Regions from separate parts of the Homo sapiens genome. Here region 1 is linked to region 2. The links come from fine-mapping of genetic effects on gene expression. Tissue or cell type: whole blood. Region 2 holds a variant in brackets; the other region holds the start of a gene. All regions are shown on one strand. Distances are between the middles of the regions.

Region 1 (8,097 bases), 63 kb before region 2:
CACCAAAAGGGCTTAAGAAATGTTTGCCCAGGGACTGACTGAATATACAAATAAATGAAAAAATGTGCAAAGCTGCTGCCTATTAGTCAATAAGAAATACTAATTAAATTTTTTAGGCCAGGCAAGACCCAATTTCAAAAGAAAAAAATTTTCAGAAATAGGAAAGGAGGGACGGTGTCTACAGTCAGCAATACAGAAGGATCTGGAATTCATTCCTGACCCAGTTCATGGGTCCTCCACCACTTCAATATAGAAGGCAAAAATCCAGAAGATACTAATAACAGAATGAAGTTGGCTTTAAAATCAACTGCCCCCAGACAGCTCGTGACAGAAACCATCTTTGCTTCTCCAGCATCCAGCACAAAGGCCTGGCTTCTAACAGAAGGTCAGCAAATATTCTTTCAAGGATGAAATGATGTCTGCATGGACACTCCCTGGTGCTCCAATGCTGTTTGTTTGTTTGTTTGTTTATTTTGAGATAGAGTCTCGCTTTGTCACCCAGGCTGAAGTGCAGTGGCATGATCTCGACTCACAGCAACCTCTGCCTCCTGGGTTCAAGTGAATTCTCCTGCCTCAGCCTCCCGAATAGCCGCGCTTACAGGCGCCTACCACCACGCCCGGCTAATTTTTGTATTTTTGGTAGAGACGAGGAGTTTCACCATATTGGTCAAGCTGGTCTTGAACTCTTGGCCTCCCAAAGTGCTGGGATTACAGGCATGAGCTACCACACCCAGCCTCCAATGCTGTTTGATAGGGTCAGCATCTCAGACAGCTGGGGCATTTCTGTGAGATGATATACTTTACCATATGTGCTGGCCATCAACTTCACCCACATTCTCATTATCCCCCTTAACAGATGCGGAAATTGAGGCTCAGAGGGGTGAGGCCACCTGCCAAGTTCATAGAGCCAGGCTCTGAACCTTCCTAACTCCAGACACCTGCAAGTCCTCATATCCTAATCCCAGCTGAAAAAGCAGAGTCCAGTTAGTGGTGGCAACCACATTGTGGTCCAACATACCCTACCTTTTGCCCTTCAACGTGCTGGGCTCTGCTCCAGGACAGGGGTGAGTCAGAGACAAAGCGGGAAGTGGGGCACTAGGGCAGAGGAGAGTTACAGCAAGTGGCCAGGAAATGGGCTGAGGGCTGTGGAGCTGCCATCCTTCACACAGGAGGGGTTCCTCCACTGAGCCCCTCATGGGAGAAGTAGCCCAGGACCTGGGGTGGTCTAGAGGCAGTCACTCCTGGAATAACTCTTCCTGAACAAAAAATCAGGATGGCGCCAGGCAAGGTGGCTCACACCTGTAATCCCGACACTTTGGGAGGCCAAGTGGGGGAGAATCCCTGGAAGCCAGGAGTTCGAGACCAGCCTGGGTAACATAGTGAGGTGAGACACAACGCGAGGCCACTCCCGCCCCCTTCCATCTCTACACAAAATAAAACACGCCAGACGCGGTGGCTCACGCCTGTAATCCTAGCACTCTGTGAGGCCAAGGCAGGCGGATTGCCTGAGCAACACAGTGAAACCCATCTCTACTAAAAATCCAAAAAATTAGCCAGGCGTGGCGGCGTGTGCCCATAGTCCCAGGTACTTGGGAGGCTGAGACAGAATTCCTTGAACCCGGGAGGCAGAGGCTGCAGTGAGCCGAGATTGTGCCACTGCACTCCAGCCTGGGCAACACAGAGTGGCTCTGTCTCCTAAATAATTAAATAAATTAGCCAGTTGTGGCGGCCCGTGCCCATAGTCCCAGCTACTCAGCCTGCAGTCCCAGCGGGCTGAGTTGGGAAGATCACTTGAACCTGGGAGGTTGGGGCTACAGTGAGCTATGACAGCACCACAGCACTCCGGCCTGGACTGCAGACGGAGACCCTGCCTCAAAAAAAAAAAAAAAAAAAACCAGGGCAGGGTCTGATAGGCGCCTGAACAGAAAACTCTTCCTGGACATTGGCCTGGGAAAGTGGGGCCTGAGGAACACAGTCCCTGTGCTCAGATCCCTATCCTCAGCCTGAAAGGGCAAAAATCTAGAGGGATGGAAGGCTTCATCTTTAGATGAGGCTATCGTCTAAAGAGGGACCGAAGTTTGGCCGGGCAAGGTGGCTCACGCCTGTAATCCCAGCACTTTGGGAGGCCGAGTCGGGCGGAACACAAGGTCAGGAGATCGAGACCATCCTGGCTAACATGGTGAAACCCTGTCTCTACTAAACATACAAAAAATTAGCCCGACGTGGTGACACGTGCCTGAAGTCCCAGCTACTCGGGAAGCTGAGGCAGGAGAATCGCTTGAACCTGGGAGGCGGAGGTTGCAGTGAGCCAAGATCGCGCCACTGCACTCCAGCCTGGGCATCAGAGCGAGACTCCTTCTCAAAAAAAAAAAAAAAAAAAAAAAAGAGGGAACGAAGGTTATCTGAGCTGCAGCGATCCAGGCAGGGAAGAGGTCAGGACCCCACTGTCCTGTCTCCCAGGCAGGCTGAAAAGCTTGGAGCTCAGGCCCCAGGCGCACAGGTGTAAGACAGGGATCTGGAGCCACAGACCTGGCTCCGGGCTCAGCTCTGCCACTTAAGTCTCTGGGGAAATAAGTAAAATGGAGACCGCAGTTCCTGCCTTTGCCCCAGGGACTCTCTCTCTCCCCCGCACCTTCAACCCCAGCTGCCCAAAACTCCTCGTGGGAACAGGAAGAGAGGTCTCAAACCGAACCAAGCTGGGGCGCGGAACCCAGGTGGGAGAGACAAAAGAGCCCCCAACTCAGCACCCTTCTCAGTCCAGGGGAGAGGGCTTGGGGGACTCTGTGCTCCCCGGAATGTTAAGGAGCAAAGCCCACCCACCAAGTTGACCCAAAACTAGGCTGCAACAAGTGCCTCCCAGGCTCGGTCTCCCACTGGCTGGGACTTGAAGACTCCCTCTCGCTCCCAGGGGTCGCCTCCCTCGCCGGCGAAGGCCCTGCCAGCTGACACCGGCCGGCCCACCCCCATCCCGCAATTAGGCGGGAGACAAAATGACATCATGCACGGCTTGGCCCGGGTCCCAAGAGACCCGCCCGTCCCAGCTCCGAGGCCCAACAGGCCTGGGGAGCCGCGAGGGACGCCCAAGAGCCCCCCAGCTTTACGCGCGCCCCTGCCTCAGAGGGCCCAGGACGCAGCATTTCCGCGGAAACACCCCACCCCCAACACACACACACACCCCAGCTTGGTGGGAGCCTGGGGAGGGTCGGGGGTATCTGGGTGGGGGAGGGGTGAGTTAAAGGGAGGGGGAGGGGCCCAAGCCCTCCCGGCTCGTCTCACCAGCGCGTCCGCCGAGACATCCCCCCGGCCCGGACCGCGCCGCGCTCGCCCGCCCGCCGGCAGAGCCCGGAGCGGGAGCCGGGCCGGGGTCAGGACCCGGGCTGCTCCGGCCGCTCCGGGCCCCGGGCCGCGCTCGAAGGCGTCAGCGTGTCAGCAGGTCCCGCGCTCCTCGCTCGCAGGAACTGCAGTCGCCGCCGGCGCGGGTTGAAGCACTTTTCTATCTCCCGCCAAGCGCGTCGGCGCCGCCCAGTCCTGGCGCGCGGGCGCCGGGGGAGGGGCCTGAGTGAGGGGCGGAGCCAGGGGGCGGGGCGGGGCGGGGCCTGCGGGGCGGCACCTGCCCAGACCCTCCAGGGCCGGCTGCAGGACAGGGGCGGCGGCCGCTACTTCGGAGTTGTGGAGCGGGCCGGGATGTGACCGAGGCCTGGCTCACGTGTCAGTCCGGGGCGGCCCAGGAGTATCCCACATAGCGAAGACCGAGGAAGGGGAGCGAGGCGCGAGCATGGGAGAGCCAGCCAGGGAAAGCGCCAGGGCGGAATCCCCCACGCTAGTCCAAGCCACTACTGGGTCCCTAGAGCCGCACCCTAAAGCGGCTCCTCACCCTACCTGTGCCTCTCCCTGCTTCCTCTCCTGCCTCCAAGAGACCCTCCTTAATAGACTTTATTTTTTGTTGTTCATTTTTCTTAGAGGCAGGGTCTTGCTCTGTCGCCCAGGCTGGAGTGCAGTTTCGCGATCATAGCTCACTGCAACCTCCACCTCCTAGGCTCAAGCGATCCTCCTACCTCAACTCACGGGTAGCTAAGACCAGGCACTCGCCACTACACCCGGCTGATTTTTTTTTTTTTTTTTTTTGAGACGGTGTCTCGCTTTGTCGCCAGGCTGGAGTGCAGTGGCGCGATCTTGACTCACTGCAACCTCCACCTCCCGGGTTCAAGCGACTCCCCCGCCTCAGCCTCCCAAGTAGCTGGAACTACAGGCGCACACCACCACGCCCGGCAATTTTTTTTTTTTTTTTTTTTTTTTTTTAGTATTTTAGTAGAGACGAGGTTTCACCATGTTGGCCAGGATGGTATAGGTCTCCTGACCTCGTGATCCGCCCGCCTCGGCCTCCCAAAGTGCTGGAATTACAGGAGTGAGCCACTGCGCTTTTTTTTTTTTTTTTAAGAGAAGGGGGTGTCTTGCTATGTTGCTGTTGCCTAGACTGGTCTAGAAACTCCTGGGCTCAAGAGATCCTGCCGCTTTGTCCTCCCAAAGTGCTGGGATTGCAGGCGTGAGCTCTTTCCAGAATTTAAAACCATCCTCCTCTCCCTCAGGGTAAATTCCTTACTCCACAATCACATTTATCTGATCTTCCAGACCACCACCCAGCCCTGGCCAAAAGAAACGGCCTCTTTGCCTTTGCCTGAGCCATTACCCAGGGCAGGAACACTTCCTGCCCCTCCCACGTGGCTGATTCCTATTTAATTTGGGGTCCACTGCCCACAATCTGCCTGTAGACTTCTGCATTTCCCCCTTTGAACTGGGAGCATCCTGAGGTCCAGGTGGCCTCTCAATGCACACCAGTATCTCCAGGGCCCAGTAGAAGACCTGACATAAGAAGCCCCAGGCAAAGGTTTGTTGCATTGAATTGTTTACCTTGGGTTTAAACTCCCAGAGATTAGCCCAGATTTAGTGGCTCATGCCAGTAATCCTAGCAGTTTGGGAGGCCGAGGTGGGAGAACTGATTCAGTCCAAAAGTTTGAGACCAGCCTGGGGATCAGAGTGAGACCCTGTCTTTACAAAAAATTAAGAAATTACCTGGCTGTGGTGGTGAATGCCTGTAATCCCAGCTACTTGGGAAGCAGAGGCAGGAGGATTGCTTGAGCCCAGGAGTTCGAGGGGCTCAAGCCCTTGTCATCCCGCCACTGCACTCCAGCCTGGGCGACAGACAGTGAGACTGTCTTTCCTTGAGATTTAGCAAAGGTTTTCTATATTAGATTGACATTTACCAAGTACCAAGGATCAAGTCACACTGGACTTCCTGGGAGCAGTGCTGAGAGGAAGATAAATGAGCTCTGAGACAGGACGCTGAAGAAACCAAATCAAACCCCAGCCTTTTAGCCCCTGTTCAGGCCTCAGAGCCCCCTTCCAGAAGCTGCTGGCCACCTGGGGACAGTCCAGCCACCAGCTGCTGCAAACTTCACTTACCACAGAAGGAAGACTAACTCACATCTTAAGTGCTAGAAGCTTCCACATCACTTAATTCAGGGTTTCTCCCGCCCACTCCCCTTATAAAGTAATTAATGTGGACATGCCCACTTCATTGAAAGCACAGCCTCCACAGCCAAACTTCCTGGGGTTTGAGTCCCAGCTCCACCATTCAGTTGCGGTATCTTAGGCAAATTACTTAACTTTTTTTTTTTTTTTAGACCAAGTCTTGCTTTATTGCCCAGACTGGAGTGCAGTGGTGTGATCTTGGCTCACTGCAACCCCCACTTCCCGGATTCAAATGATTCTCCCACCTCAGCCTCTCGAGTAGCTAGGACTACAGGAATGCGCCAGCATGCCTGGCTATTTTTTGTATTTTTGTAGAGATGGGTTTTCATCATGTTGGCCAGGCTGGTCTTGAACTTCTGACCTCAGGTGATCTACCCGACTCAGACTCCCAAAGTGCTGGGATTACAGGCATGAGCCATCATGCCCAGCCAATTACCTAACTCTTCTGTGCCTCAGTTTTCTCACCTGGAAAAATGGGATTTATCAAAATTTTAGATAGTTTTTAAACTATCAGCCTCCCAAGTAACTGGGGTTACAGGAGCACGCCGCCATGCCCAGCTAATATTTCCAGCCAGCATTCTGTTTATAAATTGTAACTCATTTAATCCTTGTAACAACTCTATGAGGTAGATACTGGGATTATCCTCTTTTAGCAGATGGGAAAACTGAGGCACAGACTTCCCCAAGGTCACAGTGCTAGTAAATGGCAGAGCAGGGATTCAAACCTGGCCTGTCTAGTTCTAGAGTCTATGCTCTTAATCACTATACTTTGTAGGTAATTATAGGATTAAATAAATTAATATGTGTAAAGCACCAAAAACAGTTCCTGGCACATAATGAGAGCTATATTGGCCGGGCACAGTGGCTCATGCCTGTAATCCCAGCAGTTTGGGAAGCTGAGGCGAGTGAGTCACCTAAGGTCAGGAGTTTGAGACCAGCTTGGCCAACATGGTGAAACCCCATCTCTACTAAAAATATAAAATATTAGCCGGGCGTGGCGGCATGCACCTGTAACTCCAGCTACTCAGGAGGCTGAGGCAGGAGAATCACTTGAACCTGGAGGCGGAGGTTGCAGTGAGCTGAGATCGTGCCACTGCACTCCAGCCTTGGCAACAGAGCAAGACTCCGTCTCAATAACCCCAGCCTCCCGAGTAGCTGGGGTTACAGAAGCACTCCGCCACGCCTGGCTAATTTTTTGTATTTTAATAGAGATCGGGGTTTCACCATGTTCCCCAGGCTGGTCTCAAACTCCTGATCTCAGGCAATCCACCCACCTCGGCCTCCCAAAGTGCTAGGATTACAGGCGTGAGCCACCGCGCCCAGCAAAAAAAGAACTATATTACTGTTAGCTATTATTACTACTGTAATTCTTCAGCTGCCCTCACTCTTATCCTTTGAGGTCCACACATTAGTCATCCCATTTCAGGGAGAGGCAGGACCTGACAGCTTGGGCAAGGTATCTGCCCAAAGCAAGAGGCAGGGAACAGCTGCAGAGTGCACTTGCAACCTGGAACTGGGGCCAGTTAACCAATGCCCCAGAGCCAAAGAAGCCTGGAGTCAGTGCTGTGAGTCAGGCAGCAGGGAGATCACCCTAGTGCCAGATGGAATCTGATGATCTCCACACATTTCCTCTCCAGTTATCATCATACCAACAGATATCCCCTGGAGAGAGGATTCCCAGTGTCCCGAGTGAAACCACACCTGGGAGTGGTCCCTGGACTCTGGACTAGTAACATACAGAATTTATCTCTGCTGGGAAACTTTTCCTGAACACGCCCTCCTTGGACAGGGAGGCTCCAGGTATTTGGTTATTCCACAATTTGCCCCAACCCCCAGGCCTGACCCTGTGTTGGGAAGATAAGGGTCAAATCAATTTATTAAATGCTCAGGGCTCAGCACCAGCTTGGACACCAAACACTAATTGATGATAAGTAGAATCACATGGCCCTTCTGGCTGGAGTCTTCCCCCTCCACCTCCAGAGCATCCTCCTTATCATTCTTGTCCTCATCACACTTCCTCCACCATTTTATTTCTCTCTCAAGAGAAAGGACAGCCTGTGCACATTTTAAGCTTCAGACCTTTACTATAGCTTGGCTTCTGGTAGGTACTCATGGAAGGGGTTCTACACATTCCATTTAAATTGAGTGGATGCAATGTTACAAAGCTAACATTTGGGCTGGAGAGTTAGAAAGGCTTGGACCTCAAGTGAGAAAGCTGGGAATGCTAGAGTTTGAATTGTATCTCATAAAATATGGGTCATCAAAAGAGATTCAGGCTGGGCACAGTGGTCATGCCCGTAATCCCAGCACTTTAGAAGGCCAAGGCAGGCAAATTACTTTGAGGTCAGGACTTTGAGACCAGCCTGGCCAACATGGTGAAACCCCATATCTACTAAAAATACAAAAATTACCTGGGCATGGTGGCACAAACCTGCAGTCTCAGCTACTCAGGAGGATGAGGCATGAGAATCACTTGAACCCAGGAGGAGGAGGTTGCCGTGAGCCCAAACTGTGCCACTGCACTCCAGCCTGGGTGACAGAGCAAGACTCTGTCTCAAAAAGAGATTT
Region 2 (8,105 bases):
GCCACCCAGTCCGGGAGGGAGGTGGGGGTCAGCCCCCGCCAGGCCAGCCGCCCCGTCCGGGAGGGAGGTGGGGGGGTCAGCCCCCCGCCCGGCCAGCCGCCCCGTCCGGGAGGGAGGTGGGGGGGTCAGCCCCCCGCCCGGCCAGCCGCCCCATCCAGGAGGTGAGGGGCGCCTCTGCCCGGCTGCCCCTACTGGGAAGTGAGGAGCCCCTCTGCCTGGCAACCACCCAGTCTGGGAGGTGTACCCAACAGCTCATTGAGAACGGGCCATGATGACAATGGCGGTTTTGTGGAATAGAAAGAGGGGAAAGGTGGGGAAAAGATTGAGAAATCGGATGGTTGCTGTGTCTGTGTAGAAAGAAGTAGACACGGGAGACTTTTCATTTTGTTCTGTACTAAGAAAAATTCTGCCTTGGGATCCTGTTGATCTGTGACCTTACCCCCAACCCTGTGCTCTCTGAAACATGTGCTGTGTCCACTCAGGGTTAAATGGATTAAGGGCGGTGCAAGATGTGCTTTGTCAAACAGATGCCTGAAGGCAGCATGCTCGTTAAGAGTCATCACCACTCCCTAATCTCAAGTACCCAGGGACACAAACACTGCGGAAGGCTGCAGGGTCCTCTGCCTAGGAAAACCAGAGACCTTTGTTCACTTGTTTATCTGCTGACCTTCCCTCCACTATTGTCCTATGACCCTGCCAAATCCCCCTCTGCGAGAAACACCCAAGAATGATCAATTAAAAAAAAAAAAATACTACCACAAGTGCACAAAACTGTACATACAAAGATGTTCACTTATCCCAGCACTTTGGGAGGCCGAGGCAGGTGGATCACCTGAGGTCAGGAGTTCAAGACCAGCCTGACCAACATGGTGAAACCCCATCTCTACTAAAAATAGAGAAATTAGCTGGGTGTGGTGGCAGATGCCTGTAATCCCAGCTACATGGGAGGCTGAGGCAGGAGAACCACTTGAACCTGGGAGGCGGAGGTTGCAGTGAGCTGAGATCATGCCACTGCACTCCAGCCTGGGTGACAGAGTGAGACTCCATCTCAAAAAAAAAAAAAAAAAAGATGTTCATTTGTGCTTTATTATCTATAATGACAAATATAATTTTTTTTTTTTTAGACGAAGTCTCCATCTGTCCCCCAGGCTAGAGTGCAATGGTACGATGGCAGCTCAATGCAACCTCCACCTCCCAGGTTCAAGTGATTCTCCTGCCTCAACCTCCCCAGTAGCTGGGATTATAGGCGCCCACTACCACGCACAGCTAAATTTTCTATTTTTAGTAAAGACGGGGTTTCGCCATGTTAGCCAGGCTGGTTTCAAACTCGTGACCTCAGGTGATCCACTCGCCTTGGCCACCCAAAGTGCTGCAATTACAGGAGTGAGCTACCACACCCGGCTATAAAATTGTCTATAACAACAATACGGAACAGAAGTTAAGAGTGCAGGCTCTAGAATAGACTGCCTATGTTTGCATCTAAGTTCTGACACAGAGTAGTCATGTGCATTTGGGCAATTACATCTCTGTATCTCATCTCTAACTTTCCAGAGTTGTAAGGATTAAATGAGGTAATACATGCCTGTCACACAGTCGATGCTTGACAAACATTAGGTGGTATTATTAAAGAAAAACATTATAAACTACTTAAATGTCCAATAATAGGGAGTTGGTTAGATAAACTGGGATATATCCAATTTAATCCAGTCATTAAAAATGAAGAGGTACTCACCTATAACTTTATACATGGAAAAAAAAAAACCTAGAAATCTAAATACCATACTATATATTTTTTGAGATGGAGTCTTGCTCTGTTGCCCAGGCTGGAGTGCAGTGGCGTAATCTTGGCTCACTGCAACTTCCGCCTCCGGGGTTCAAACAGTTCTCCTGTCTCAGCCTCCCGAGTAGCTGGGACTACAGGTGCACACCACCACGCCTGGCTAATTTTTGTATTTTTAGTAGAGATGGGATTTTGCCATGTTGGTTACACTTGTCTCTAACTCCTGACCTCAGGTGGGCCACCCACCTCGGCCTCCCAAAAGTGCTAGGATTACAGGCGTGAGCCACCATGCTGGGCCTAAATACTATATTAAGACTACCTTCAGGGGGAGGAGCATGGACTTACAGTGCAGAGCTTCTACTTTTTTCCTCTTGAACTGTTCAAATTCTGATTATTTTTGTAACCAGAAACAAAAGCTCTTTTCATTTTGAAAAAGAAGACTCCAAAATGATACATCTTCCTCATGTGGCATCAGAAAACACACTCACTGGGCATTGTTTCCACTGCTTTCCTCATCAATGATCCCAGGCACAGCCTTTCCTGCAGCTCGGCTAATTTCCCTTGAAGAAGAAAAATTAAAATCTAGTAAACAAAAAAAATTTGAGAATTTCACACTGCATTCATTAGTACAGCAAGTATGAGGCTAAGGTGGGAGGATTGCTTAAGCCTGGGAGGTCAAGGCTGCAGTGAACTGTGTTCCCACCACTGCATTCCAGCCTGAGCAACAGAGCAAGACTCTGTCTCAAAAAATACATATATATATAAACAAAAAATAAATTGAATGTGAAGTAAGTTTCAAAAGATGAAGAAAAATAATTTGATGAATGAGTAGTAGTAATATAGTAAAATAAATTATAATAACACAAAACAAAAAGGCAAGAAAGAAGAAAGGGCAGTGAAAAGAATGTATGAGAAGAGACGAGGGAAGATTTATGTAGAAGAAATGAGAGTTATGTGTAAGGATATTTCTGCTTTATTTTTTTTTTGAGATGAAGTCTCGCTCTGTCAGCCAGGCCAGAGTACAATGGTGCAATCTCAGCTCAATGCAACCTCTGCTTCCCGGGCTCAAGTGATTCTCCTGCCTCAGCCTCCCGAGTAGCTGGGATTACAGGCGCCTGCTACAATGCCTGGCTAATTTTTTTTGTATTTTTAGACAGGGAGATGGGGTTTCACCATGTTGGCCAGGCTGGTTTGGAACTCCTGACCTCAAAATGATCCATCCACCTTGGCTTCCCAAAGTGCTGGGATTACAGGTGTGAGCGACGATGCCTTGCCAAGATATTTCTGCTTTCAACATGCTTACCTGTTCAAGACTCCACTGGAAACTAGAGCTTCTTTAGGATGGAAATATTTGTGATATACATTTCTAACCACAGCATCTATGAGGGAAAAAGAGAAGGAGGTATATTTTAGGTTAGAAATAAATTCGATATTATAGACTCATACCAATTTTGACCTGAAGGGCACCCTGGAACTTGGTTCCAATCCATCTCGCTTTATAAATGGAAGCAGCCCAAGCCTAGGAGGCTCAGACTGCTGATGAGAATGGAACATTAAAACACGCACACACAGCCCAGGGCTTTTTCCATTATGCCACTGGACCTAGAGGGCTATGATATCAAATAATAGATAGAAAAGTACTGCCTCTACTGAAAATAATAATACTAATTACCATTATTAACCATGATTCCATATTCTTCTAGTAAAAAGTTAATATTGGTGTCAAATCTGGATTCTCCACCTTCTCCTAGCATCACAAAGACATCTCCACCAGTGTCAAGATATTTCTTCAGGATTTCAAACTACACAAAGGAAAAAAGCAATCTATGAATATACTTGAAAGACTTTTGCCCGAAATACCATGAATAAGACCTTAACTAGATGAAAAATACATATTTCAAATCTATAAGGCATTTACATATAAATGTATATAAGATAAAAAGTACTCTCTATGTAGGATCTCCAAGCTTGTCTTTGAGCATAAAGCTCCAAAATACTCAAAGTAAATTGACAATTTCAAAGCTGACTATCTAGAGAGCAAGTCAAAAGTGAAAAACTTAACTAAAGGAAGCACTCAGTTCTCCATTCAGCAGCACCCCTGGTCTCCACCTACTAGATGCCAGTTGTACCTACCTTCCCCTGGCAACCAAAAATGTCTCTTGAGATTGCCACATGTTCCCTCAGGAGAAGAAGAAATAGAATCACCCCTAGTTAAGAACCACTGATTTAGACAATGCCTTCTCTTGACTGCCCACAGAGGATATCAGGATGAAGTCATTTCATACCACACCTGGGAGGAATTCTGTTCAAGGTCATTGACCAACCAAACCATAGAGAGAAACGCATGTTTTCTGCTTATCTCCTGGAAG[C/A]TCTCTCATTTTCACAAAGCTGGGGAAGGGAGAAAAATCTAGGGTTGATCTTGCTGGTCTAGCCTGAGAAAATCTGGGGTGGGTGGTCCAGACAAATAGTTTCTCAACTTTCTTCATCAAGCACTCCAGCAGAAAAAAATCTGAACATGTATATAAATACATTCAATATGTATGTATCTCTATATAAAATATGTACTTTATAATTCAAAACAACTCCCAAAAAGGAAATGTTTTAAGGGTAATGAAAATATGAATAATAAACATAATTTCCTTTTGGCACCCCACTGATTCATCACATGCATCCTACTTTGGAAACTACTGCCCAGACTAGATTTGCCACAGCACGGCCCTCTCGCTCTTGTATGCTCCCTGAATTTTCCTCTCCCCCTGCCTTCCCCACACTGTATAAAACAAATGAATCTTCAGAGGCCAAGGTAGGCGGATCACTTGAGGTGAGGAGTTCGAGACCAGCTTGGCCAACATGGTGAAACCCCCGTCTCTACTAAAAATGCAAAAATTAGCCAGGCGTGGTGGTATGCACCCGTAGCCCCAGCTACTTGGAAGGTTGAGGGAGGGGAATTGCTTGAACCCAGGTGGTGGAGGTTGCAGTGAGCCGAGATTGCACCACTGCATTCCAGCCTGGGCAACAGAGCAAGATTCCATCTCAAAAACGAAACACAACAAAAAAACAAAACAAAATAAAAAATGAATTATTTCAAAATCAAAATTAAGGCGGGGTGCAGTGGCTCATGCCTGTAATCCCAACAGTTTGGGAGGCTGAGGTGGGTGGATCACTTGAGGTCAGGAGCTCGAGACCAGCCTGGCCAACATGGTGAAACCCCGTGTCTACTAAAAATACAAATAGCCAGGTGTGGGGGCAGATGCCTGTAATCCCCGCTACTCGGGAGGCTGAGGCAGGAGAATCAGTTGAACCTGGGAGGCGGAGGTTGCAATGAGCCGAGAATGCGCCAATGCACTCCAGCCTGGCGACAGAGCAAGACTCTGTCTCAAAATAAATAAATAAATAAATAAATAAATAAATAAATAAAATAAAAATCAGCTCAAAGTCCATTTCCTCTGGACCCAATAATCCAATGCCTCTTTTCTGTGTTTCTGTAGAAATGTGGAACTTAGAACATTGATCATTATTGGTAGATGGTCCATTTGTGTCATTTCCCCTAGACTATCGGTTCCTTGAGTGGAGAGATCATGTGCTATTTGACTTTGATCCCTAGCGTTAGTCCTAGGACCTGTTACTAGGTGTGTAACAGATCCTTAGTAAACATTTTTTGGAACAACAACAGAAAAACAAAACAAATGGGTTATAACTGCATGATCCTGGACCCTGAACAACAGACTGAATCTCTCCCTAAATTCATCTTCCTTTTCCTTCCTTTTGATTTCCTCTCAAACTCCTCTTCCCAGACAGCCCTAAATATATGCTATGTTCTATGACTGATAATAGCAAGCCAGGTCTAGTTTGCAATATATATTCTCAGAACATAGCTTTTGCTTGGGAAATTCTACTGGGACTTGGTTTTCATGATTATGTGGTTCTGGGATTTGTCCATGTTGCCTAAATGCAATGAGTATATAGTAGTTATTGGTATCTACTGTGTCCTATTGGCCATCTGGCATTTTAAGAAAAAGATACATGAAGGATGTGGTGTGCAATAACACAGGTGGGCAAAAGTTGAAGGAGCTTACATGAATTATGACCCAGTTTCCAGCTATACACGTAAGTGAGACCCTTCTAACAAAAGAATGGATATTTGGTACAAACTGGAGGTTTCTTATTTCTTTATGGCAAAAACAGGAAGAAAGATTAATTTTGCAGACTTGAATTTTAGAAATTGGCTTAGAATGCATTCACACTGTTAGTGTGGCAGCAAATGTGAGGTATTTCCTGTAATCGAGACTGGATGATCCAGGCCAGTGGCTCTCAGTGGAGGCATTTAAACCATCTAGCATGTATTCTGGATCACCATAATATTAATATTAATATGGCAAAATATTAATGCCATAATATTAATGTTTAAGGACATTTTAGCGGGTGAAGGGCAGGGAAGTTAAGGTCCTGCAATATTCAGACCAGTCCCACACAGTAAAGAACTATTCCACAGCATTTGAATATCTTCTCAGATAGTCACGGAGGTTTAAAAAAGAAAAAGCAAACAAACAAAAGAAGCTCAGCCTAAAATCTAACTCCAATTTCTTTATTTTTTTTGAGATGAAGTCTTGCTCTGTCACCCATGCTGCAGTGGCTCGATCTCGGCTCACTGCAAACTTCGCCTCCTGGGTTCAAGTGATTCTCCTGCCTCAGCCTCCTGAGTAGTTGTGACTACAGGAGCCTGCCACCACACCTGGCTAATTTTTGTATTTTCAGTAGAGACAAGGTTTCACCATGTTGGCCAGGCTAGTCTCAAACTCCTGACGTCTGGTGTTCCACCCGCCTCGGCCTCCCAAACTCCTGGGATTACAGGAGTAAGCTACTGCGCCCAGCTCAAATTCTATGTAAATACTGTACAAAGTATTTTTTGCACGATTTAACATATACTGAATTCGGAGGTACCCAACTACCATGTAAACTGAGAGAAGAATTATACTCTTTTTATTAACAGAACTTTACCAGAGGCCAAGGCGGGCGGATCACAAGGCCAGGAGATCGAGATCACCCTGGCTAACACGGTGAAACCCCATCTCTACTAAAAATACAAAAAATTAGCCGGGCGTGGTGGTGGGCACCTGTAGTACCACCTACTCGGAAGGCTGAGGCAGGAGAATGGCGTGAACCCGGGAGGCGGAGCTTGCAGTGAGCTGAGATCACTCCACTGCACTCCAGCCTGGGTGACAGAGCAAGACTCCGTCTCAGGAAAAAAAAAAAAAAATAGAACTTTACCAAGAGTTAGTCAGTATTTTGGAAAAATCACATCACCGACAGCAACACGGCTCATGATTTGAATTGCCAATACATCACTTCCACCAGTCTGCATATGTACCTATCCCATTCATCGGAGTTCTACATACTTATTAAACATTTATTTCAAAATGTCAAACATAAAGAAGTGTTCTAATGCATGTATGACCAAGCATTAACAAACTGAAATATGTATATTCTTCTAGTATATATATGCATAAACATTTACAATTTGAAATACACATATTCTTTTATAAATCATCCTTTAATTTCTGTACATTAAAGTTAGGAAGTTATATTGCTTTACTTTTTTAATGGTGGTGGGTTAGATTATCTTTGCATTTCAATTCAGGGTAACAAAGTTGGCATCTGTAATATAGGTGGATGCTGGTCTGTTAGGGTTGGAAAATACTCGTCTCAGCCACGTGGTTACCTGGTCGTAACTGAATACCACCACAAAGCTAGTGTAATGCGTCAATGTAGTTGAGGTGGAAATAAGGAAAGACTGTTCAGCCTAGTTTCTAGCATGATACTAGCATCTAATATCAGACATATGATGTCTGTCCTGTCACAGAAGTTTCTGGAAGTCAACATGAAAAAGGCATCACACAGCTCTCCAGGGGTAACAGTCTAGGAGGCCAGCAGCAATGACAAGGAAAGCAGTGATCTCACAAGCATGAGCCCATTGGAAGAACTGTAACACAAAGGAATGCTGATTCCTAGAAAAAAAGCTAACAGCTTTTTTCCCTTTTCTTCCCACCTCACTCCAACTCTAAAGAGAAGGTATGGTGTCAGGGACTGGTCTGGGAGAGGACGTTTTATTAGGCTAAAGTTACATCAAATTTGCCTCTCGAAGGACTTGTGTCTCTTGGATGCATCAGCCTACCATGCCTGGAAGCCCAAACTAAGGCTTGGCCTGGCACCCATCTCCACTTGGGAAAAGGCCCAGGCACCAGGTTCTGACCCTCTCTTTGGATGCCCCTGTGTTCCTGAGGCTGGTTGGTCCCTGGCAAACATCAGGCCAACTCTCTCATTGGCT

What was found. PIP is the estimated chance that this variant, and not a neighbour inherited with it, causes the effect.
Region 1: it holds the start of MYBL2, and the variant in region 2 is fine-mapped to the expression of MYBL2 in whole blood (INTERVAL, PIP above 0.99).

The regions. Positions count from the first base shown.
Region 1 is chr20:43,662,483-43,670,579 of GRCh38, reverse strand. It overlaps MYBL2 (MYB proto-oncogene like 2), which reads right to left and starts at 3,466. Exons shown (of 14, transcript NM_002466.4): 1 at 3,277-3,466. The coding sequence starts at 3,296. RefSeq lists enhancers at 2,561-2,610, 3,377-3,671 and silencers at 3,261-3,640, 3,377-3,671.
Region 2 is chr20:43,599,237-43,607,341 of GRCh38, reverse strand. It overlaps IFT52 (intraflagellar transport 52), which reads right to left. Exons shown (of 14, transcript NM_016004.5): 4 at 3,453-3,582; 5 at 3,084-3,159; 6 at 2,269-2,340. Among named protein-coding and RNA genes, the nearest start is that of IFT52, 12 kb to the right of the region's middle. The variant C/A (reference allele first, on the strand shown) is at 4,150.